Linked DNA regions of Homo sapiens. The protein of the gene in region 6 purifies or fractionates together with the protein of the main gene of each other region. This does not show direct contact. Each region holds a gene or a part of one and is shown on either strand. Other genes may lie near its edges. The genes, in order: ATF1, USP9X, PPARA, METTL17, KSR1, AMOT and TEAD4.

Region 1 (2,781 bases), on a different chromosome or scaffold from region 6:
AGGCATGAGCCACCATGCCTGGCCAATACTTCCGATTTCTATATGTATATAAACTTACATATGACTTCACAGAAATGTTTTAAGAGGACATGCACAGAACTGAGTATTTGCTCAAGCATTGTTTGTAATTTGAACTTAAATAAAAGAAGTCATGTGTCAGAAGTTAACCAGAGGACCCATAATTTCACTCTTTGGTATTTATTCAAGAGAAATGAAACCTTTCTACAAAAAGACTGGCACAAAAACATGCCTATGCAGCTAACCCTAGAAACATCGCAAGAGACTGGATACACAAATGGTGGTTATATTCATACAGTGAACTATGTCCAGCAGTGTGAAGGAACAAACCCCCATGCAGCAACATGGATGAACCTCAGATGGGCTGAGTGAAGGGACACCAGAGTACATAGTGTATGACACTCTTACATGAGGTTCTAGAATAGGAAAAAAACTAATCTCTGGTGATAAAAATCAAAACGATAGTTGCTTGGAAGGGGGCTGACCAGGAAGGGGCATGAGGGAACTTTCTGGGACAGTGGGAATGTTCTGTTGTCTTGACAGAGGTGTGGGTTATACAGGTATACACAATTGCCAAAACTGACTGAATTCTACACTTAAGATCTATGTATTCTCTGTGTGTAGATGATACTTTAAAGAGAAAAAAAGGTGACCACGGAAAATTACTGAAGAACATTTACCATTTAAAGAATGTGAAGTTTTTTCTAACATTGTTTTTTTAATGCTCATATTTAGAGAAGCTGCTCGAGAATGTCGCAGAAAGAAGAAAGAATATGTGAAATGCCTGGAAAACCGAGTTGCAGTCCTGGAAAATCAAAATAAAACTCTAATAGAAGAGTTAAAAACTTTGAAGGATCTTTATTCCAATAAAAGTGTTTGATTCCTAAGAAAGAAAATATTTTTGTGGACATGCATAAAAATTAAATGGATTTCCTAGTGGAGTTTTATAAATTAAAAGGTCAAAACTGAAGCTTTTTATTTAGGCTTTTCCAAATCAAGGATAAATATCTTACGCACGATATCTAGTGACAGAGGAGAAAGTGGAAAATGACCTCAAGGAAGCTACGGGCACAACTGGAAGCTTTGTAGAAATTAAACATATTCAAGGAGCAAGAAATGAACTTTCAGCAGTCTAAATTTTCTAAATAACCAATAGTTGCCAATCTAAAATGGCAGAGAAGATGAAATTTGATAAACTGAATTTTTTTTAAAAATCCATTTACCCTACAGGTTTGCATTTGTTTGCTGAAATTTACCTTTTTTTAGTTATATATATGTGTGTGTGTGTGTGTAATTTCTGCCAATAAATTCTAAATTACAAAGGTAAGAGAAAACCTAGTACATTACTAAATATATAAAGTATATGTTCTGATTATGTATACTTGTTCTAGTGTCAAGTCTTTTTAAGTGGGTTTTTAAAAGTTTGTTATTGGACTTGAATGGATTTTTGAGACTAGGTTAATTATTTTTGAGGTCTTATCCTAAAAGGCATCTAAGGTACATGAATGGAGTATGGTGATTTTATAACATTTTTTATCAGAATGGAAAAAGAACTGTTTAAAAGTTTGATACTTTTAAATAGTTGGTTTTTTTGCTTACTCTGGTAATGATTTTCTACAAATACATAATAAATTGTTTTTTTGAGTCTATATTCTGTATGCAGTTGAATATCCATTACTTATTCTGCTGTGCTTTAATAGAATGGAATGTTTACAGGCCCTTAAAATATTATTTTTAAAAAACCTTCTGAAGATACATACCAAAGTTTTTCCAAGAAGATTTTATAATCAATTTAATAATGTAAGGTTTATCAGATTCTATAATAGTATAGTTATTAAGGCAATTTTATGTTAGAGACTATTTTGTAATGTAGTGAGTGGTACCTTTATAAGAAAAGTGACTGCCAATATATTTTTATAGCTGATCTTTATAAATTCTAATGTTGAGTTTTTAATGATTATTTTAAATGTTTATATAGTTTAGTAAAATTTGCATCTCAAAGTATCATTTTTATATTATGGGACGTTTTCAGATTGGCTAATATTTGCATTGTAAATTTTGTATGCAGTTTATCTAAAATTCAAAAATACTGTCAGTACACCAGCGTTTAACATCTATATTCCAATTTGTATACAGTTTAAAATTGTACTGCAAAACTATTGTGTGCTCTTACACAGTATGCATCATATTGTTGTCTGTGAAATTAAAGGACATTTGATAGTCTACTGAATGTAAAATATAATGCTTGGTATATGAATGATAAGCTTGCTCCTGGCCATGCTGTTAATTATCCTAATGCTACGTAGAAATCTTCACTTAACTGATACATTTGTGTTTGACCCTCCTGATGAAATTTCTCATTAGAAGGGTCTTTTAAAATGGGACTCTGTTGACTTGGCAGCACTTTATGAAAAGAAAAAAAAGTTTGATCGCCAGGGGGATTACTTATATCACTTACTACCTTGTGTAAAGCCAGAATCTCAAACTGGTGGCCCGTTAGGCCTAAGAATATGAGGAGGTATGAGGTCACTGGGTTATGTCAAAAGACTTTTTCAACAGATGATAATATATTATTGGGTAGACACCGTGCTTGTTTACAACAGAGGTAGCCTAGCTCTTAGTGCCTTAACAGCTGGACATCTGCAAATATTTGTAAACTCTGCTGCCTTCAGACTTCTGGTGTAGGGCCTTGCTAACTAGACCCAGTTACTTACTCTAGCTGTATGAAACAGGTCAGGGCAAACCATTAATGGTTCCATAAAT
Region 2 (3,500 bases), about 72 Mb from region 6:
CACCTAGAATAATACTGTTTATAATAACCATTTGATTACCTGAATGGGAAAATCTGGGGCAGTATTTAACTTGCAGTACCTCCAACCTCTTGTACAGAATTGATTCATCTTCATTTTATGGCACCCTACAGTTTATTCTTATTAATCATGTGAGCTTTGAACACCATGTTAGTCAACCATAATCAAAGGAATTGTTTTCCTTGGGATGAGTTTGAGCTGGTGATCGTGCATATTAGATCCCATCTTCTACAGAGCCTGTGAATTGGGTGGAAAGGAAAAAGGGAGTGGCGAAGCCTCCTGTTAGTATCCTTGATGTCCATTTTATTCCTGCTGACTTTGGTGGCTATTGAGAGTTATAAGTTGAGGCTGTTGGTTACATCTCTCATTTCTAGTCTTTTCTGTTAACTGGTTACTTAGAACTCCTAAGTAAGGCCGCTCATTATTAACTTGGACCCCAGAGAGCATGGAAGTTACCGTATAGTATTGAACCCATTTCTGCCTAACAGTGTTTTCTCTCTGGTCGAGGTGTAGTGTACAAAGTTTTGGTTGCTCTGCTTGGTAACATCTCTGGAGTTCAGAGCACAGGGATCAGTAAACTTTTTCTGTAAAGGGCCACATAGTAAATACTTTGGACTTTGTGGGCTAAGAGGCAAAATTGAGGACATTGGGTAAAATTTTTATTGGTGAAATAAAAAATATAATTAAATACAGTTATGTATAACTTAGGTCTAATGAGAAAAACAATTTGGTGTGTGTGTGTGGAGGGGAGGTAATACAGTATTTTGCTTTATTGGGTAAAGTTCAGTGTTCCCTGTCATCAAATTGATTGCAGACGTTCTGTGTGAAATCCATTCTTACCTTGTGAGCTGTACAAAAACAGGAGGCTGGAATTGGTCTGTTACCATAGTTTGCCAGCCCCTAGTTAAGAGCAGTGATTTTTTTTTTTAAGAGGAGGGGTCTCGCTGTCACTCAGGCTGGATTGTGGTGACGCAATCATAGCTCATTGTAGCCTGGAATTCCTGGGTTCAAGGCATCCTCGCACCTCAGCCTGCCGAGTAAGTAGGACCACAGGCCGACATCACCTCACCTGGTTAATTTTTGTTAGAGAACAGGGGTTTGACTGTGTTTCCCAGGCTGGTCTCAAACTCCTGGCCTCAAGCAATCCTCCTGTTTTGGCCTCCCAGTGTTGCTGGGATTATAGGCCTGAGCCACTGTGCTTGACCTCCTATTTGATACACTATATGTTAACAACTCTGAACCTCCTTTCCTTAAGTCAGGTTCAAACTTCTGTACATTAGCTGATGAAAGGGATTTCTTTTTATTGCAAGGTGGTATTGCCTGAGAATAGTTTGGTTTCAGCAGCTTTGCTGTATTTGTACGGCAGTATCTTGTGTTTATGTGCAAGTTCAGATGTATTTTGCCTTTTTATAAGAATGAGCAGAAAACAAAAAAGTAAATGGCGCGATCTCGGCTCACCACAACCTCCGCCTCCTGGGTTCAAGTGATTCTCCTGCCTCGGCCTCCTGAGTAGCTGGGATTACAGGCATGCGCCACCACACCCAGCTAATTTTGTATTTTTAATAGAGTTGGGGTTTCTCCATGTTGGTCAGGCTGTCTTGAACTCCCGACCTCAGGTGATCCGCCTGCCTCGGCTTCCCAAAGTGCTGGGATTACAGGCATGAGCCATCATGCCTGGCCTACCTGGAGGTCTTAAATATCCTTGAGACAGAGGGAACTGGTTAGGGATATGAATCTTAAACCTTACTGGATTAGGTTGTGCTCATTGGTTAGGTTAGTTGGCTTTGTGCAAATAGTGAATGCAATAATTAGAATGAAATAGGAATTAAGTGAGGCAAATGTATGATGAAGTTTACATTTGAAAGGTGAGGGTATAATTAGAAATAAAAGTTTCTGTACTCTGTGAGTGGGAAAAACCCCTAAAAAGGTGACTGTCGTTTTTGAAATTTTTGACTTCTCTCACATTTTCGGGAATGTGAAAGGAGGATACTGGCTATGTACAGCATTTGTCCAGACTTTTGAAAATATAGAAAATCTCATTTACTCATTTAATTAGTGTGTATATTATCTGTTTACTGTGTCCTTTGTAGATATAATTAATTATCCAGGATTCTTAAGAGTTGACTTGGAGCATGCTGAGCTGAGGCAAGAGGGATTGTGGGGCCAGACTGAGTGTTGGAGGAGGAACCTACTGTAGTGACTACAGGTGTATTTCTTTTTTCTTTTTTTTTGAAATGGAGTTTCACTCTTGTTGCCCAGGCTACAGTACAATGGCGTGATCTCGGCTCACTGCAACCTCCGCCTCCTGGGTTCAAGTGATTCTCCAGCCTCAACCTCCTGAGTAGCTGGGATTACAGGTGGGTGCCACTATACCCGGCTAATTTTGTATTTTTAGTAGAGATGGGGTTTCACCATGTTGGCCAGGCTGGTCTCGAACTCCTGACCTCAGGTGATCCACCTGCCTCATCCTCCCAGAGTGCTGGGATTACAGGTGTGAGCCACCGTGCCTGGTGTGTTTCTTGTCTGATGTCAGTGCATGTCGTTATCTGAGCCATATCAATGTCAGCTGAGGATTGCTTTGTTATCCTCGGTGCATTATGGGAAGGAGAATCATGTCAGTGCTACCTTACTGTGATTGAATTGAATTCATTGATTTAATATAGATTCAGTTAGTACGCCTTATCCATAATATTTGGGATCAGAAGTGTTTCCGATTTTGTAATTTTTTCCCCATATTTTGGAATATTTGGAATATTACTTGCGGGTGAGTGAAAATTCAAAATCCGAAATTTGGGGCCAGGCGCGGTGGCTCACCCCTGTAATCCCAGCACTTTGGGAGGCTGAGGCGGGCAGATCACTTGAGGTCAGGAGTTCGAGACCAGCCTGGCCAACATGGTGAGACCCCCGTCTCTACTAAAAATATGAAAATTAGCCAGGCATGGTGGTGTGCACCTGTAATCCCAGCTACTCAGGAGGCTGAGGCTGGAGAATCCCTTGAACCCAGGAGGTGGAGGTTGCAGTGAGCCCAGATCGCGGTACTGCACTCCGTCTAGCCTGGGTGACAGAGCGAGACTCCGTCTCAAAAAAAAAAAAAAAAGTTCAGATTTTGGAGCATTTTGGATTCCAGATTTTTCAGATAAGGGATGCTCAACCTGTGCCATTTTAGGCACCAGAGGGTATATAAAGATGATTCTCTGCTTTCAAGGCTCTGAAGTATGGTGAACCAGACAGTTATACAGTGCAATTACAGCTGTATTAAGTGGAGGTGTGAAAAGTGTAGTAGGAGAGATGGAGAAATCATTGTTTGGCATTGGGTGAGGTCTTCAAAGATGTCCTATTTTCATGGCCCTATTAATTAGAGCAGGGACTTCCGGTCAGAGGGATCAACTTGAGATCAGGCAGGGTTTTTTAACCCTATTGACAGTTTGGGGCAGATAAGTCTTTGTTGTGAGGTGCTGTCCTACTCAGCCCTGGCTTCTACC
Region 3 (3,500 bases), on a different chromosome or scaffold from region 6:
GTGGTTTTCATTAGCTCCTGTTTGTCAAACTTATGAACAGAGTTTTAAAAATTGTGTATCAGCCGGGTGCGGTGGCTCACACCTGTAATCTTTGGGAGGCTGAGGTGGGCAGATGACAAGATCAGGAGTTTGAGACCAGCCTGGCCAATATGGTGAAACCCTGTCTCTACTAAAAATACAAAAATTAGCTGGGCATGGTGGCGGGTGCCTATGGTCCCAGCTACTCAGGAGGCTGAAGCAGGAGAATCTCTTGAACCCGGGAGGTGGAGGTTGCAGTGAGCTGAGATGGCACCACAGCACCCCAGCCTGGGTGACAGAGCAAGACTCCGTTTCCAAAAAAAAAAAATTGTATATGAGAGAGACAGAACTAGACAGAGAAGAAGGAGAAAATGTGTCTTCTTTATACACTATTTTGTAACTTGCTTTATCGAGTAGGTTATGAAAAATCTTCCTATGTGAAAAACATTTCTGCATCATTTGAAATGTCTATATAATATCCCATTGTGTTTAGATACAATAATATTTAGCCAATCTCTTTATGTGTATATATTTAATACAGTCATTCTATAAATATTGACTGAGTAGCTGCTGTGGGCTACTGTCCGCAGTGCTGAACAAGACAAGCATGAATCCATGAAACTGATTTTCATACCAGAATATAAAAAAGAAACTTAAAGATAATCCTCATCATGGTAAAAGATGAAGAACCTATTTTTGCCGGGACATCTTACTCTTTAGTAATTGGTGGCCAGTGTTCTTTTTCTTGCATGCTGTTTTGGAGAGTCTGTTTTTTAAATAAATATTTAAGTAGCCTGGGCGCAGTGGCTCACGCCTATGGTTTCAGCACTTTGTGAGGCCGAAGGGGATGGATTGCTTGAGCCCAGGGCTTCAAGACCAGCCTGGGCAACCTGGCGAAACCCTGCATCTACTAAAAATACAAAAATTAGCCAGGTATAGTGGCGTGTGCCTGTGGCCCCATCTACTTGGGAGGCTGAGGTGGGAGGATCCCTTGAGCCTGAGAAGTGGAGGTTGCAGTGACTGAGATGGCACCACTACACTCCAGCCTGGGTGACAGAGTGAGACCTGGTCTCAAAAAATAAATAAATATTTATGTAATCATCTTTAAGCAGTGTTTTTAATTTTATTTATTTATTTATTTATTTTTGAGACAGGGTCTCACTGTGTCACCTAGGCTAGAGCACAGCTGCATGATCACGGCCTATTGCAGCCTCGACCTCCCTGGGCTCAGGTGATCCTCCCACCTCAGCCTCCCAAGCAGCTAGGACCACAGGCACACGCCACCAGGCCTGACTCATTTTTGTATTTTTTGCAGAGACGGGGTCTTGCTATGTTGTTCAGACCTGTCTCAAACTCCTGGGCTCAAGCCATCCTCCTGCCTCGGCCTCCCATAGTGCTGGGACTAAGCCATGAACCACTGCACCCGGCATAAGTGGTCTTTCTTTAAAAAAAAAAAAAAAAAAAAAAAAAAAAAAAAAAAAAAACCACATTAATTAAAATATGTATTTGCTTATTATAAATATATTTGAAACATGCCAATTTTTCTTCTCTTTTTTTGCTCTATTGGTTTCTGTGTGTGGATGGATATATTTTTAATGGCAAATAGGATGAGTGTCTTTACTTCCAAGTAGTCAGTGTTTTTCTTTAATGTTTGTACTAATTTTGTCACATTGCAGTTAGAGGTTGTGGCCTGTCTAATTTCTGCTTTTTTGGAACTTGAGAGTCTCTGTTTTTATTTGTTTTTGGTAGCCTGGCATAGAGTCCATTTTTCTTTTCTTTTCTTTTTTTGAGACGGAGTTTAGCTCTTGTTGCCCAGACTGGCGTGCAGTGGCGCAATCTCAGCTCACTGCAACCTCCGCCTCCTGGGTTCAAGCGATTCTCCTGCCTCAGTCTCCCCAGTAGCTGGGATTACAGGTGCCCACCACCACACCTGGCTATTTTTTGTATTTTTAGTAGAGACGGGGTTTTGCCATGTTGGCCAGGCTGGTCTCGAACTCCTGATCTCAGGTGATCCACCCGCCTCGGCCTCCCAAAGTGCTGGGATTACAGGTGTGAGCCACTGCGCCCAGCTGTAGATACTTTTTAAAAAGGTATAGTTTCTGATTATGGGGTAGAAATGTGCTATGTCTGTCATTTCAGCCTTATGAATTGCCCAGAATAAGCTAGATCACCTTTAAGGCCATGTGGTTAGGGAAACTTGGGCACAGAATTTACATTTTCAACTTGGTGATAAGATGGGTTTAAGGTAAGAATCAAATAGGAGAAAGCCTTAGCTGTTCCAGCGGCCCATGTTTAAAAGAATGTGCTTCTTTTTCCAAGTATTTCTGCCGCTTGCATGCACTGAGCTTCTTTGGAAAGGAGCACCATGCAGGCATATTTTCCAGACAGGACCGGATTTGCTCGTTACTCAGAGGTGTGTGCATTCTTTGCTTTTAGGATATTTAATTAGCATCTTTTAATAGTGATATTACGGTGTCTTAAAAGTTTATGCATTTGAAAAGAAAAGAACTTACTCCTTGCCAGGTCTCAACCTATCATGGTTATCTTTGCAGCTGAGCTGCGTTGGTTTTGAGGCTCACATATGGTAAAAGTGGTTGGAAATCTGGAAATATTGCTGTGTATCTGCAAAGCAGCTTGATATAGTGGAAAAGGTATTAGGTCATTAATCATGAGATTTGGATTCTAGCCCCTTAGCTGCTGCCTGCCAGGCCTGGAGACCTTTGTTCTCTTCTTTAAACTGCTGCTTTCTCATCAGAAAATGAAGTTCCTCTCCATACCACCTCTCTGAAGGGCTGTGAAGCTCGAAGTGGCAGCTTAAAAAACTGCCCATCTCAGGAGGTGTCTTAAGAAGGAGGACATACCGCTGGCTCCTGCCTTTCTCACTTAGCCAGGTCTGATACCTGTGTTGTTTTCACTGTGGCCATTTTAGGATTTTTCAAAGGCTTTCAGAAAGCAACATGCTACCGTACCCCTTATACACCAAAACTGGTTTTCATTTTGGAATATAAAAGTGAGATTTCTCCACCAGTACAATAAAGTTGTTACAAGTGGTTCCTATGTGTTTGTTTTTGTTTTTGAGACAGAGTCTCACTCTGTCACCCAGGCTGCAGTGCAGTGGCACAATCTTGGCTCACTGCAACCTCCGCCTCCCGGGTTCAAGCAATTCTCCCACCTCAGCCTCCTAAGTAGCTGGGACTACAGGCACCCGCCACCACGCCCAGCTAATTTTTGTATTTTTAGTAGAGATGGAGTTTCACCATGTTGGCCAGGCTGGTTTTGAACTTCTGACCTCAGGTGATCCACCTGCTTCAGCCTCCCAAAGTCTTAGGATTACAGGCGTGAGCCACCACACCCGGCCTCCTGTGTGTTTTGAAGGTGATTGTGACCTCAGGTTTTGGCAGGGCTATACCTTGTGTTTGCTCTTACTCCAACTCCATGGCATACCTGGACCAGGCCTCTTCATCTTGAAGAGGGATCTGCTG
Region 4 (2,278 bases), on a different chromosome or scaffold from region 6:
ATCCCATAAGGTATTTGTATTGAATCTCAAAAGGCATTCACATCTCACATCCTCTGTGATAGCCTCCTAATTCACATTTATCAAGGTCCTAAATAAGTATCTAATTACCCTACTGTGGGATGTTGTATATTTCTTCAGATCCGGGCTCGAAATCCAGCATTTCAGCCACAAACTTTGATGGACTTTGGCTCAGGTACTGGTTCTGTCACCTGGTGAGTAACTTTCTTCAGCCCTATCTTGGTCAATTTTAGCTCTAGAAAGCCATACTTACACCACTCCAAAATTAACAGACTGGAAAACCAGAGGGAGAATAGGCAAGTTGGGAATCTATAATGTTTCTTCCATCAGATTAGGCAAGGCAGAAGAAGGTATATGGATTGGGGCCAGAACTTAAAAGAAATGTCAAGTAAAAAAAGGCGCATGTGTAGAAAAATTAAAAAGAAAAGGAATTATCAATCAAAGTTGTTTTTGCCTACAAATAGTATTTTGAGTCTACCTTTTTTTTTTCTTTTTTGAAACGGTGTCTCACTCTGTCGCCCAGGCTGGAGTGCAGTGGCACAATCTCGGCTCACTGCAGCCTCCACTCCTGGGTTCAAGTGATTCTCCTGCCTCACCCTCCCGAGTAGCTGGGACTACAGGTGCACGCCACCACACCCAGCTAATTTTTGTATTTTTAGTAGAGACGGGGTTTCACCATATTGGCCAGGCTGGTCTCTAACTCCTGACCTTGTGATCCGCCCACCTTGGCCTCCCAAAGTGCTGGGATTACAAGCATGAGCCACTGTGCCCAGCTGAGTCTACCTTTTTTTTTTTAGGAGTTGTAAATAAAACAAGAAAATAACACTATTAGTTATTTTATTACTAACTATACAACTACTTTAACATAACACTCTCTTTTCCCAGGGGTGGGGTTGGGTGTAAATGGGCCTCTTGTAGAGATGACTCTTGGTCATGGGAATTGGTGATTTATAATAATTTTGCCATCTTAGGGCTGCTCACAGTATTTGGGGCCAGAGCCTACGTGAATATATGTGTGTGGACAGATCAGCTGCCATGTTGGTTTTGGCAGAAAAACTACTGAAAGGTGAGTGCAAGAGCACTTCCAAAGTTGAGGGAGTTAAGAAAGCAAAGGGGTACTAGTAAAAGTGTTTTACTGGGAAGTAGAGAAGAGGGTAAAAATTAAGATGAATCTGGTTTACTTTTAAAGTTATAGTCAAGCAAAGGGTGGTATTAGAGGTTTCTGCTGGACTGAGGATGGGTTGGGTAAGAATCAAAGGACAGGAGGCCTAATATTCTCCCTGCCCTTTTTTTTTTTTTTTTAATTAGAGGTAGGGTCTCCATATGTTACCCAGGCTGGTCTCAAACTCCTGGCCTCAAGCCATCCTCCCACTTCAGCCTCTAGGGTAGCTGGGATTACAGGCACGCACCGCCATACCTGGCTCATCCCTGCCCTTTTTGATATACACTTTACCTATTCTTGGGGCCATGTTTCTTATCTGGATATCTCTTCAGTTTATACCTAACTTCCTACACACTCACAGTTGCCTCTTCTTTTCTCCACAGGTGGTTCAGAATCTGGGGAGCCTTATATTCCAGGTGTCTTTTTCAGACAGTTTCTACCTGTATCACCCAAGGCAAGTGGCAGTGTTTAGAATATTCTAAATGTGGAATGTGGCAGATGGAAAACTATGGCTTGAGCTTTGCAGCCCAGCACTGAGTGTTAGAAGATAAAAGAAATTTAGCGGCTAGGACTTTGTTGTATTCTTGGGATGTAGAGATGTTGAGTCTGTCATGTTCCTTGTCTTGGTCCTCAGGTGCAGTTTGATGTAGTAGTGTCAGCTTTTTCCTTAAGTGAACTGCCCAGCAAGGCTGACCGCACTGAGGTAGTTCAAACCTTATGGCGTAAGACAGGTCATTTCCTGGTGAGTTAAAATTCCTTGTTCTCCTTAAGTCTTGAAGCAGCTTCATGGATTTCATGCCTTTGCTCCTCTCATTGTCTTTATTCTTCACCATTTTTCTCCTTCATGGGTTTCTTTATCCCTCTTTGAGGGTCTCCATCCTGATTATGTAATGCCTATTTCTTTTTAGGACTCCTTCTCCCTCTATGATTGCTCTTACACAGCTACTGACATTTATACTTTCGTGTAATTCAAGTCTTCTGCATATTTTCCCCTTTTGTGAACAGGTACTGGTGGAGAATGGAACAAAAGCTGGGCACAGCCTTCTCATGGATGCCAGGGATCTGGTCCTTAAGGTAAGGCTTCTTCTTCCCTCACTC
Region 5 (3,244 bases), on a different chromosome or scaffold from region 6:
CTCCTAGTACAGTCCCAGGAACATTATAGTTGGGCACTAAATATTTAATGTGCATGAATGAATGTGAGCAAAGGGTGATACCATGCCAAGTGCTGTGATAAAGCCCAGATGGGGGCCTCTGCATCCACCTGGGGGACAGGAGGAAGAGTCTCTGGAAGAAGGTCGTCAGGGCTGGGTTTTGAGCCAGAACTATCCCAGCAGAGACCAGGAGCATGGGGCTCTTAGCAGTTCAAGGAGGGTGATGTGAGGCAGCGAGGCCAAGCTCTAATCAGACCGTGGGCAACTTGCTTAACAAGCTGGGCCCTGGTTTTCTCCGTGACGAAAGAAAAGGCTCCACTAGGTGGACACTGGCATTCAGAACATCATTCCAGATTCCCCAAAAACCATATAGTCCCACCTTCTCATTTCACAGGCAGGAAACTGAGTCACAGATGGGGCTGTTCCCTGCCCAGCCCCTTCGAGGAAAGCATGCGGGCTTTCCTTTCCTGAATGAGTCTGTGTCAAAGCTTCCTGTTCACAGTGTTTACTTTCTACACGCTTGCCCCCTAATTCTCACTTTCTCTTTTCTTTCCATTGATCTTGTCACTTTTTTATTTTCGGGGGGTGGCGGATGTGCTGTTCTGTCATCTCCCACTTTCCCATCACCTGATTCCTCCACCTGTCCACACGTGCCTGACTCCATCACATGCCGGGGCCGGACTGCGCTCTTCCCACGCCTGGTGGAATGGTCGCTGGGCACTCCCAGTCGCTGGAGGAGCCGCTACTATGGAAAAGGACGCTACGGCCACCCTGACTTTAAGAGCTCCTGTCCGATTCTGGAGGAATAGTGTGTTCCTGTTACTTCCTTCGCTGGCTGCCTGTCTCTGGTTTTCCTGACACAAGCCCTGCTTCCTTTCTGTCGCCGCTTCCCAGCTTCTCCCATCTTTGTGTCATTTATTCTCGCAAACCAAAGTGAGGTTTCTGCAGCTGAAATGGCTTCCAGCAAGGGTCACACAGGCTTGCATTTTTCGCTGGGTGAGAGAAGAGCCACAGCATGTGGCGGGGCCTTTGTCCACACCATGAGTGAATGGGTGGCTTGTCCCTGGGTCGGAGAAAATTCTGGTCATTGATTTGAGCCCCCAGGATCCCAGTCCCCCTGGCCAGAGCTCAAGAGAAGAGAATCCAGTTAAGCAGAAATACTCTTGGAAGTAGATTTTACTCGTCAAGGGCTAAGGAGCTGTGGGCATGTTCCATCCTCTTTATAAACGTGCTGCAACTGTGCCCTGCGGGAGCTTAGAGAGGGTTCTTTGTGCCCAGGATCCCTTCTGAGCATGCAGTGCAGCCAAGCCTGGGGGATGGAGTCCAGGATGGCCCTTTCTCTCTGGAAGAGAAAGGGAGTCCCCTGCCCAGCTGCTCTGGCCAGACCTCTAGCTCCCGACAGGCTCTGCATTGGGGCTATGATTCTGATGCTGTTCTTTGCTTTCTTCTCTTTCCCTCTGTAGGTTGTAGGCCTGGCTGCCTTGCATGCACCAGGGGCTTTCTTCCTCCTAATCAACAACTCAGCACCGTGACTTCTGCTAAAATGCAAAATGAGATGCGGGCACTAACCCAGGGGATGCCACCTCTGCTGCTCCAGTCGTCTCTCTCGAGGCTACTTCTTTTGCTTTGTTTTAAAAACTGGCCCTCTGCCCTCTCCACGTGGCCTGCATATGCCCAAGTAACTGCTCTCAGAGGATCCCACTAACTGAGCTCCCTCCAAGGCAGTCTGGGCAGCTTCTAACTACCTTCCTGGACATGACTGATTGCTCCCGTGTTCTTCTGAGGGCTGGTCTTGTTTTTGTTTGGGTGGCTCTGTCTCACTGCTAACACCTTAGTGAGATGCCTTCCACCCTCCTGAGCACACCAGCCTCCCACTGGGTGTGTGCCTAGTGCGGGGCGGGCGGAGGTTGGGAGGGTGTTGGCTTGGCTTTTAACCTGTGGGGATTTTGTCCAACAAGGAGTGGAATGATTTCAGAGCTGCCCTGAGGCTGGCACCCTGGTCACAGGAACCCTCTGCGCTGGCTCCTGTCTCAGTCCCCTCTGTAGAGTTAGATCAGAAGACACAGAAAGTTCTGTGGCCATGAAAGATACCAGCTTGGAAGGGTTGTGTCTTCAGTGGCACCCTCAGAAAAATTGTCTTAAAGCAAAGAGGTACCTGGCTCCAGACAATTTTTCTGATGAAAACAAAGTCTCTGCCCCGTCCCCACCCTGCCACCCTGGCAAAGTTACTTCCTTTACAGCTGCCCAGTGTACCATAGACCAGACCCCAGGTCAGCATTTGTCAAGAGCATGGCTGCTGAGTCCCCTGTGGCAGTCAATGCACTGTTTACCAAATGCAGGTTTCTGTTCTCCCTCCCCAGCAAGACCTGCTGAACCCAGATCTCTGGAATGGGGCCCTAGGAATTTGCATTTCAACCTGCTTCCCAGGTGGCCCTGATGCACCCCAGTATTAGAGTTTATTGCTAAAAGGAACATGCCCTGTCACTCCTGGTATCCTGGGAGTCATGTTTCTCTTCTCTCTCAGTTCTACTTGGAGCAAGAGCTTTCCTGGGCTGCAAATGAGAAAACAATTCCTAGGAACCCACAGCAGTACTGAGCATGCTGGGAGCTTGGGACTTGGAGATGAATGAGCCACCGTTGCTGCTCCAAGTAGGACTACTTGGAGTGTAGCTGAGGCCTTGGACGCAGTATGACCAGGGGCAGCTCTGCCAGGGCTGTTGGCCAATCAGTCATTTTCATTTCTTGTTGGAGGCCAGGTCCTCTGCTGAACTCATTTCCTAGCTAGTGTTACCCTAATTCTGATGAAGATCAATGGGGCTATAATTCTTGTTTTTGTTCCTCTTTGCAGCATTAACAGCAGCAAAGTTGTACCCCGGTTTGAAAGGTTTGGCTTGGGCGTCCTGGAGTCCAGTAATCCAAAGATGTAGCCAGCCATATGGTTTTTCGCTGCTGATCTCTTTCTTTTTAAAATGTGTTTCTGAAACATCCCAACAACCACCACGACAAAAAAACACTGCCTGCCCAGCGCTGCAAACCAGGAGCACACGTCCTAGATTCAGACTGTTGGCCATAAACCCCACTCGGGAGATGGAGCTGCACCTGCTATTTCTTAAAATGACACCACCAACAACCAAACCTGTCATGACAGACAGCAAATGTTTACACGTATATTTCTCCTGAGTGAACCTGATGTTTTACAATAGGTAATAATAAAAACAGTCTGTGC
Region 6 (3,500 bases):
TTACTTACTACCTGCAGGTTGTCGCTCATTCATAGATCTCATCTTCTCACTGAGTAAATTGTTTCCATTGACTGAGATTCTTCACTACAGCACCTAGTACATCAGTTCATTCTCTCATATTCAGCCTTTTTTTTCACTGGTACTTTATTGTGACTTACTAAGATTTAAGCAACAGCTCCTGGATGCTCTGCTGTATCCATTTGGGTGTGCAGAAAAAAGAAAAAACATGTTTTAAAAACTGTAGCACACCATCCCTTGTTTTCCAACTCAGAACTAACTAGATCAGCCTTTAGTCGAAAAGATAATGGGAGCTCCACGTAGTCATGTAGTCAATTAGACCAAAATGTGGAGGTAGCAAGAAGGTTTTTTTTTTTTTTTTTTTTTTTTTGAGATGGAGTCAGTCTTGCTCTGTCACCCAGGCTGGAGTGCAGTGGCACTATCTTGGCTCACTGCAACCTCCGCCTCCCAAGTTAAAGTGATTCTCCTGCCTCGGCCTCCCGAGTAGCTGGGACTATAGGCGCCTGCCACCACACCCAGCTAATTTTTGTGTTTTTAGTAGAGACAGGGTTTCACCATGTTGGCCAGGCTGGTCTCGAACTCCTGACTTTGCAATCCGCCCACCTCGGCCTCCCAAAATGCTGGGATTACAGGCGTAAGCCACCGCGCCCAGCCCACAACAAGGTCTTTATATGTTCTTTGCCTTTGGCTCCTAGGATTAAGACCCTCCATGCCCAGATTATTGAGAAGGATGCCATGATCAAAGTACTCCAGCAGCGTTCCCGGAAGGAGCCGAGCAAGACAGAGCAGCTGTCGTGCATGCGGCCAGCGAAGTCTCTGATGTCCATTTCCAATGCTGGATCAGGCTTGCTCTCCCACTCATCCACCCTGACTGGCTCCCCCATCATGGAAGAAAAGCGAGACGACAAGAGCTGGAAGGGGAGCCTAGGTAATGACAGTAAATAAGGAAGATTATAGTCACGTGTTCAAAGAGAGCCCTGAGATAAGCACCCATGCTTAAGGAAAAGGGATGATGGTCCAGGTTCTAGAGAGGAAGGTGTACCAGGGTTTTGGAGTTTTTTTTTCCTCCTGAGACCCTAGTTCCACATTCTGGAGCTCCTCCACACTTTGAAGTCTCCCGGTGAGAATACCGATTGAGGCCAAGGCTTAGAGGACAAGAATCTTGAGTTTCATTTGGGTGTCAAGGAAGATAACTCTAATTTCCTCTAAACTATTCTCAGATTTGGCCTTTGCCATGTGGCACCTTTATCTTTCTCCAAAGCCCATGTGGCCTTTGTGTCGTTCCAAATGTCAAAATTCCGGCATTTCTGTGTTCCTTCCTCCTCTATAATAGGAGAACCCAGAGTTTTAGTTACACTAAATCGTTTGGGTAGCAGGTTTTGTTCCCACAGTGTTGTGAGATGAGAACAGAATGTACTTTTTCATTCCGTTCCTGTCCATTCCCTCCCCTCTAATCAAAACCCCAGACATATTGTGGATACCACGAGGCACATTTTTAGAGCCCGAGGAAGGAAGCTTATATATATTTTTATTTTAACCCTTTTTGTTGCTGTTAATTCCTTTCTTGGTCCTCTGATACTTGTAATATCTTTTGGTTAGAATAAGCATTTTGGGGACTATGGTCATGGTGAGAACCTCAGATCACACAATTATTACCACACTCAATCTGTGTCAACAGACTTCTTCCCCAGATCCTTTCTTGCTCCCTGGTAACGTGTGGTAATGGTTTATAAGTGGAGCCGAGTAGGAGCATTCTGACAACTTGGTGGAACCCAATCACCATTGGAAAAATAAATCAAAACAGATACCCAGGTCACTTACAGGCTTAATATGTTGTGCCAGGTGATGGATGAGGACCAGAAGGGATCCTCGAAGTCTGTAGGAAACTTTTAGCCATGGTTGGAGGAGCCTCACACACTGATTTCTGGGTTCCCTGGAGGCAAAAATAAATAACTTAGACTATTCTAAATTATTTAATATTTAAAAATAATAATATTTTAAATATTTAAATAATATTTACTTATTTAAAAATAAATAAATTTCTTCTGAAATTTGAATGGGAGAACAGGTAATTAGATGTCTGGATTTGAATCACCTATTGTTTTCTAACATCTGTTCCTCTTTCATTTGTAGGCATTCTCCTGGGTGGAGACTACCGTGCTGAATATGTCCCTTCCACACCCTCGCCTGTGCCACCCTCGACTCCCCTGCTCTCGGCTCACTCCAAGACAGGCAGCCGAGACTGCAGTACCCAAACTGAACGTGGGACGGAATCGAACAAAACTGCAGCTGTTGCTCCCATCTCTGTTCCTGCTCCAGTTGCTGCTGCCGCCACTGCTGCCGCCATCACTGCCACTGCTGCCACCATCACCACCACCATGGTAGCTGCTGCTCCAGTTGCTGTTGCTGCTGCTGCTGCTCCAGCTGCTGCTGCTGCCCCGTCTCCAGCCACTGCCGCTGCTACTGCTGCTGCTGTTTCTCCAGCTGCTGCTGGTCAGATTCCAGCTGCTGCCTCTGTTGCCTCAGCTGCTGCCGTTGCTCCTTCTGCTGCTGCTGCTGCTGCTGTTCAGGTTGCTCCAGCTGCTCCGGCTCCAGTTCCAGCTCCGGCTCTGGTTCCGGTTCCAGCTCCAGCAGCGGCTCAGGCTTCTGCTCCTGCTCAGACTCAGGCACCAACTTCAGCTCCGGCTGTGGCTCCAACTCCAGCTCCAACTCCAACTCCAGCTGTGGCTCAGGCTGAGGTTCCTGCAAGTCCAGCTACCGGTCCTGGACCACATCGTTTGTCTATACCAAGTTTGACCTGCAATCCAGACAAAACAGGTAATTATTCCCTTTAGCAGGTAGGTTTTGGTTTAGTTCTGCTCTCAAATACAGATTTATTTCTTGTTGTCTGATGTCTGGGCAGAGTTATCATTTGGACTGAGTTTTTCACGTTCTAAAGGAGAGAGAAGAGAGTCTGTAAATGACTTCTCATCCACCAAGATGGGAACAGGCATGAGTAGAGGCCATTATCTTAGCAGAAGTAAATGAGGGAGGTGGCAGGCAAGTCTCACTTTGCCATTGGCTTCATGAGGGCTCTGATGGTGTCTGGTTCTAGAAATATGGGTTTTTTCTTCATCCCTAAGTGTTTTCTAACCCTTATTTCCATTTAGATGGGCCTGTGTTCCACTCCAATACTCTGGAAAGAAAAACTCCCATTCAGATCCTGGGACAAGAGCCTGATGCAGAGATGGTGGAATATCTCATCTAAACGGCCAAATCAAGAGCTGCAGATTATCAGCAAAAATGCTTTTAATCATTTTCCCCCTTTTATTGGTTCTTGTTTTGAGGGTGAGGACAAGGGTTGTGGGGAGGGGATGTTTTTTAACAGGACTTTTTATTGGAACAATGTACTACTTGAGTAATACCATGTGAACACCAGTCTATTTTGGTATGCTTAGGGAGTACCTCTAAAGACAGATTAATCAGAATGTGCTCTAAAGCTT
Region 7 (3,500 bases), on a different chromosome or scaffold from region 6:
GCCTGTTAGCATTCACTAGCTAGGCGAGGCCTCGGGCTCCAGCCTCTCCTCCCAGTGGAGGCCCTGCCCGGTCCTACCCCCACCCCCACACCACAGGGCCCCGGGTGCACCTGGGGCCGTGCTGATTCCATGCCTTTTGCCTCCTCAGTTTTGGCAAGGAGCTTTGCCAGGCCAAGCCGGAACGTCCCATGAGTGAGTATGGCCTCTGGTTTCTCTTGCCAGTTGCTCCCTGAACTGAACTTGAACCCATAAACTCATGGCATTAAGCCTGGGCCCCAGGGTGTGCTGGGGCCGCTGCTGGGGTCGGCCTTTCAGGATGGCTCTGAGCTCAGGGATTGGGCTCTTCTACTGTCAGCCATCACTGGGCTCATCTGTGATGTCTACACCCTAGGGTGGTATTTGCCAAAACTCCAGTCTGTCCAGGGTATAGGCAGGGCCAGAGCTGGGGTCCCCCAGGGGAGGAGGCTGGGAAGCAGACCTCTGGCTGGCCTGGGAGGAGGAGAGGGAGGGGTGGATTTCTTCAGCAGACACGCTGTGTCTGTGGACCCGCCACGAAACCCAGGGGAGTCGGCAGGGGCGGGAGTAGGAGGCCAAGGCCCATCGGGACCACTGAAATCCAGACCACCAGGACCTACCACACAGACCACTGGACCCAGTGCAGGGATCCGGGGCGGTGGCCTGCCCGAGGCTGACACCTCCCCTCCTCTCTCTCCCGCAGTGTGAAGCCTTTCTCTCAGCAAACCTATGCTGTCCAGCCTCCGCTGCCTCTGCCAGGTGGGTGGGCGCTGCGTGGCCCCCTTTCTATCGCAGCCATGTGGCTCCTGCCTCTGGGTCCAGGCCCCCGGCAGCCGAACGCCTGCGTGTCCCTGTTAGATGCTGCCCCGTCATGCACACTGACCACACGTCCTAGTCCCTGGCCACACCCCATTCCTTTCCCCCAGCATGCACACCTCAGCCGTGTGCCAAGCCCCTTCATGCCCCTCGGGTTGCCTTGCTCCTGTCCCCTCAAAGCTGTGCTCAGGGCTTGTGGGGCACGTGCAGTTCCAAGGGCAGTGCCCGTGCCCTGGCGGCTGCCCCACTTGGCCGGCCTTGTTACTGCAGTGTGCCTCACACACCTGGTCCTGGGAGGGCCGAGGGGTGTCTAGCTCACCAGCCTGGAGCCCCTCCCGAGAAGAGGGACCCTTGTGGGAGAAGACCTGGTGGAGGCAGCCAGCGGTGCTGACAGGAGCCCCCACCCCGCCCTCTCACTGACAGGCTCTGCTCTGTCCTCGTCTCTTTCTCAGGAGGGGCCCTCACCACCTCCCACTCTGTAGGACAAGACCAGCTCCTCACTCTTAAACTGCCCTTTCTGGTGTGGAGTCTGCCTGCCCGGCCCCTTGGCTTTCCCTGCCACCAAGAGCAGCCCTGCTGCCTTCTGTCCCCCAGGTCCTGAAGGCTGCTTTCTCTCGTTCACACATCAAAACAAAGTCACAGCGTCAGGTCCCGTCCACCCTCTGTCTCATGCCAGTCTTCTGTCCACACTGACCATGTCTTCACTCCAGGCCTGCTGGCTTTTGCCTGCGTTCCTGCAGCAGCCTCTCCACCGGCTCGCTGTCCCGTCTCACCTCCTCTCGTCACCCTGTCACTCACCAGAGCTTCAGTCTCACGGTGTTGCTTCCAGGTTTATGGTGCCTTCCTGGCCCCCTGGTGCCTTCAGGACACGATCTAAACTACAGTAGGACTGGAGTAGGTTCATCTGTTAGCAACGCTGGATTGAGGGGCTCTTCTGGGCCAGGCCCTGTTCTGGGAGCGGGGGAGACACATGTGATGCAAACAGGAAACGTCCCCGTCTCTCCGGGATGATGCCATATTGTAATAGTGGATTCATCTGGTTATTTCCCCGACTGGAACAGAAGTTGCTTGAGGGCAGGAACTTAACAGTGCCTGTTCTGGAAGCCTCTCGGTCCTGCAGGGCCCCAGCTGCCCTCCAGAATCCAGTCTTGCTCGGCGGTTCCATGCAGAGTGCTGAGTGGCCCGAGTTGTACCAGGCGAGCCCCTCCCCACCAGGGCAGCTCCAGGATGCCCTGGCCCAAGCCTGGCACTCCCTCCACCACCTCTGCTAGGAGGTCCATTTAGGGAGACAGGCGGTCCCCCCAGGCAGCACGGGTCTGTCCGAGGAGGCCTGGGGTCCTTGCAGAGGGTGCGGGCAGGGCGGGTGTCCGTGACCAGGTTCCATGTGCCTTTCTCACTTTGTGCAGGGTTTGAGTCTCCTGCAGGGCCCGCCCCATCGCCCTCTGCGCCCCCGGCACCCCCATGGCAGGGCCGCAGCGTGGCCAGCTCCAAGCTCTGGATGTTGGAGTTCTCTGCCTTCCTGGAGCAGCAGCAGGACCCGGACACGGTAGGTCCTGGCCTCTGCCTGTCCAGCTCCCTGGTCACCCCCTCTCCCTCTGTTTCTGCTTCCGGCAGTCTTGCCCCACTCCATGCTGGGGCTTAATTCAAGTTCCCTGTTCCTTTCCGATCTTCCCTTCTGCCCTTCCCCCCACTCCTCCTTTCCTCCTTCACGTCACCCCTCTTCCCTCTTTCCCTCCTCCCTGGCTTCCTTTCCGTGTCCCAGCGCCCAGTCAGCGTCACGCTCCTCCCTCCCTGTCCTGTGTTCCTCCTCCCCTCCTAACCCAACCGACCCTTAGTCCAAGGTTGCTCTGGTCCCAGCCCCACCCCTACACTGTCCCAGCCTCTCTCTGGTTCTGAGAAGCGGGCAGGAAGCTGAGGAGTCTCCTGTGTCTGCTCCATATCCTATGGGATACCAGCCTGTCCCCTTCGGTGTCCAGTGTCCTGGGTGACCAGCGTCACCTGCAAAGGTCAGAGGGGGACCTGGAGGAGGCCAAGGTGACAGGATGCCAGGGCCCTTCTCACTCTGACATCTTCAAACTTCTTTTTTTTTTTTTTTTTCTTGAGACAGAGCCTCACTCTGTCACCCAGGCTGGGAGTGCAGTGGCATGATCTCAGCTTACTGCAACTTCCACTTCCTGAGTTCAAGCGACTCTCCCGCCTTAGCCTCCGGAGTAGCTGGGATTACAGGTGCCTGCCACCACACCTGGCTAATTTTTGTATTTTTAGTAGAGACTGGGTTTCACCATGTTGTCCAGGCTGGTCTTGAACTCCTGACCTCAAGTGATCCACCCACTTCGGCCTCCCAAAGTGCTGGGATTACCGGTGTGAGCCGCCGCACCCGGCTCAGACTTCTTTTTAGCTGAGGAACCCATGAACCAAATAGACCTTTACTTAGAAGTCCAGGATGTAAAACAAAAGGAGTAGACTTTTACCATCTCTATTTTACTCATGGGGAAACTATGGCCCAGAAAGGCCAAGCGGCTTGCACCAGGTCACGTGGTGGGCACGCAGAGCCAGGGTTGTCTGTCTGACCGTCTGGCCTGTGCTCCGTCTCCCTCAGACCCACTCTCTCCACAGTACAACAAGCACCTGTTCGTGCACATTGGCCAGTCCAGCCCAAGCTACAGCGA

Evidence for each region.
Region 1: the proteins of AMOT (region 6) and ATF1 purify together in Homo sapiens (co-immunoprecipitation; one large-scale study listed by IntAct). This does not show direct contact.
Region 2: the proteins of AMOT (region 6) and USP9X purify together in Homo sapiens (affinity purification with western blotting; 3 studies listed by BioGRID). This does not show direct contact.
Region 3: the proteins of AMOT (region 6) and PPARA purify together in Homo sapiens (co-immunoprecipitation; one large-scale study listed by IntAct). This does not show direct contact.
Region 4: the proteins of AMOT (region 6) and METTL17 purify together in Homo sapiens (affinity purification with mass spectrometry, with the first as the bait; one large-scale study listed by BioGRID). This does not show direct contact.
Region 5: the proteins of AMOT (region 6) and KSR1 purify together in Homo sapiens (co-immunoprecipitation; one large-scale study listed by IntAct). This does not show direct contact.
Region 7: the proteins of AMOT (region 6) and TEAD4 purify together in Homo sapiens (co-immunoprecipitation; one large-scale study listed by IntAct). This does not show direct contact.

Annotation. Positions count from the first base shown.
Region 1 is NC_000012.12:50,818,882-50,821,662, forward strand, and holds the end of ATF1 (cyclic AMP-dependent transcription factor ATF-1), read left to right. Parts: intron 1-753; coding exon 754-898; 3' UTR 899-2,281; downstream 2,282-2,781.
Region 2 is NC_000023.11:41,091,945-41,095,444, forward strand, and holds part of USP9X (ubiquitin carboxyl-terminal hydrolase 9X), read left to right. Parts: intron 1-3,500.
Region 3 is NC_000022.11:46,153,526-46,157,025, forward strand, and holds part of PPARA (peroxisome proliferator-activated receptor alpha), read left to right. Parts: intron 1-3,500. UniProt on the Homo sapiens protein: Ligand-activated transcription factor. Key regulator of lipid metabolism. Activated by the endogenous ligand 1-palmitoyl-2-oleoyl-sn-glycerol-3-phosphocholine (16:0/18:1-GPC). Activated by oleylethanolamide, a naturally occurring lipid that regulates satiety.
Region 4 is NC_000014.9:20,992,980-20,995,257, forward strand, and holds part of METTL17 (ribosome assembly protein METTL17, mitochondrial isoform 2 precursor), read left to right. Parts: intron 1-138; coding exon 139-212; intron 213-989; coding exon 990-1,084; intron 1,085-1,563; coding exon 1,564-1,634; intron 1,635-1,814; coding exon 1,815-1,922; intron 1,923-2,185; coding exon 2,186-2,254; intron 2,255-2,278. UniProt on the Homo sapiens protein: Mitochondrial ribosome (mitoribosome) assembly factor. Binds at the interface of the head and body domains of the mitochondrial small ribosomal subunit (mt-SSU), occluding the mRNA channel and preventing compaction of the head domain towards the body.
Region 5 is NC_000017.11:27,620,448-27,623,691, forward strand, and holds part of KSR1 (kinase suppressor of Ras 1), read left to right. Parts: intron 1-745; coding exon 746-826; intron 827-1,481; coding exon of another isoform or gene 1,482-1,488; exon of another isoform or gene 1,489-2,866; coding exon 2,867-2,945; 3' UTR 2,946-3,244.
Region 6 is NC_000023.11:112,778,332-112,781,831, reverse strand, and holds part of AMOT (angiomotin), read left to right. Parts: intron 1-713; coding exon 714-946; intron 947-1,043; exon of another isoform or gene 1,044-1,114; intron 1,115-2,151; coding exon 2,152-2,835; intron 2,836-3,167; coding exon 3,168-3,265; 3' UTR 3,266-3,500.
Region 7 is NC_000012.12:3,018,397-3,021,896, forward strand, and holds part of TEAD4 (transcriptional enhancer factor TEF-3), read left to right. Parts: intron 1-148; coding exon 149-192; intron 193-718; coding exon 719-774; intron 775-2,237; coding exon 2,238-2,377; intron 2,378-3,447; coding exon 3,448-3,500. UniProt on the Homo sapiens protein: Transcription factor which plays a key role in the Hippo signaling pathway, a pathway involved in organ size control and tumor suppression by restricting proliferation and promoting apoptosis.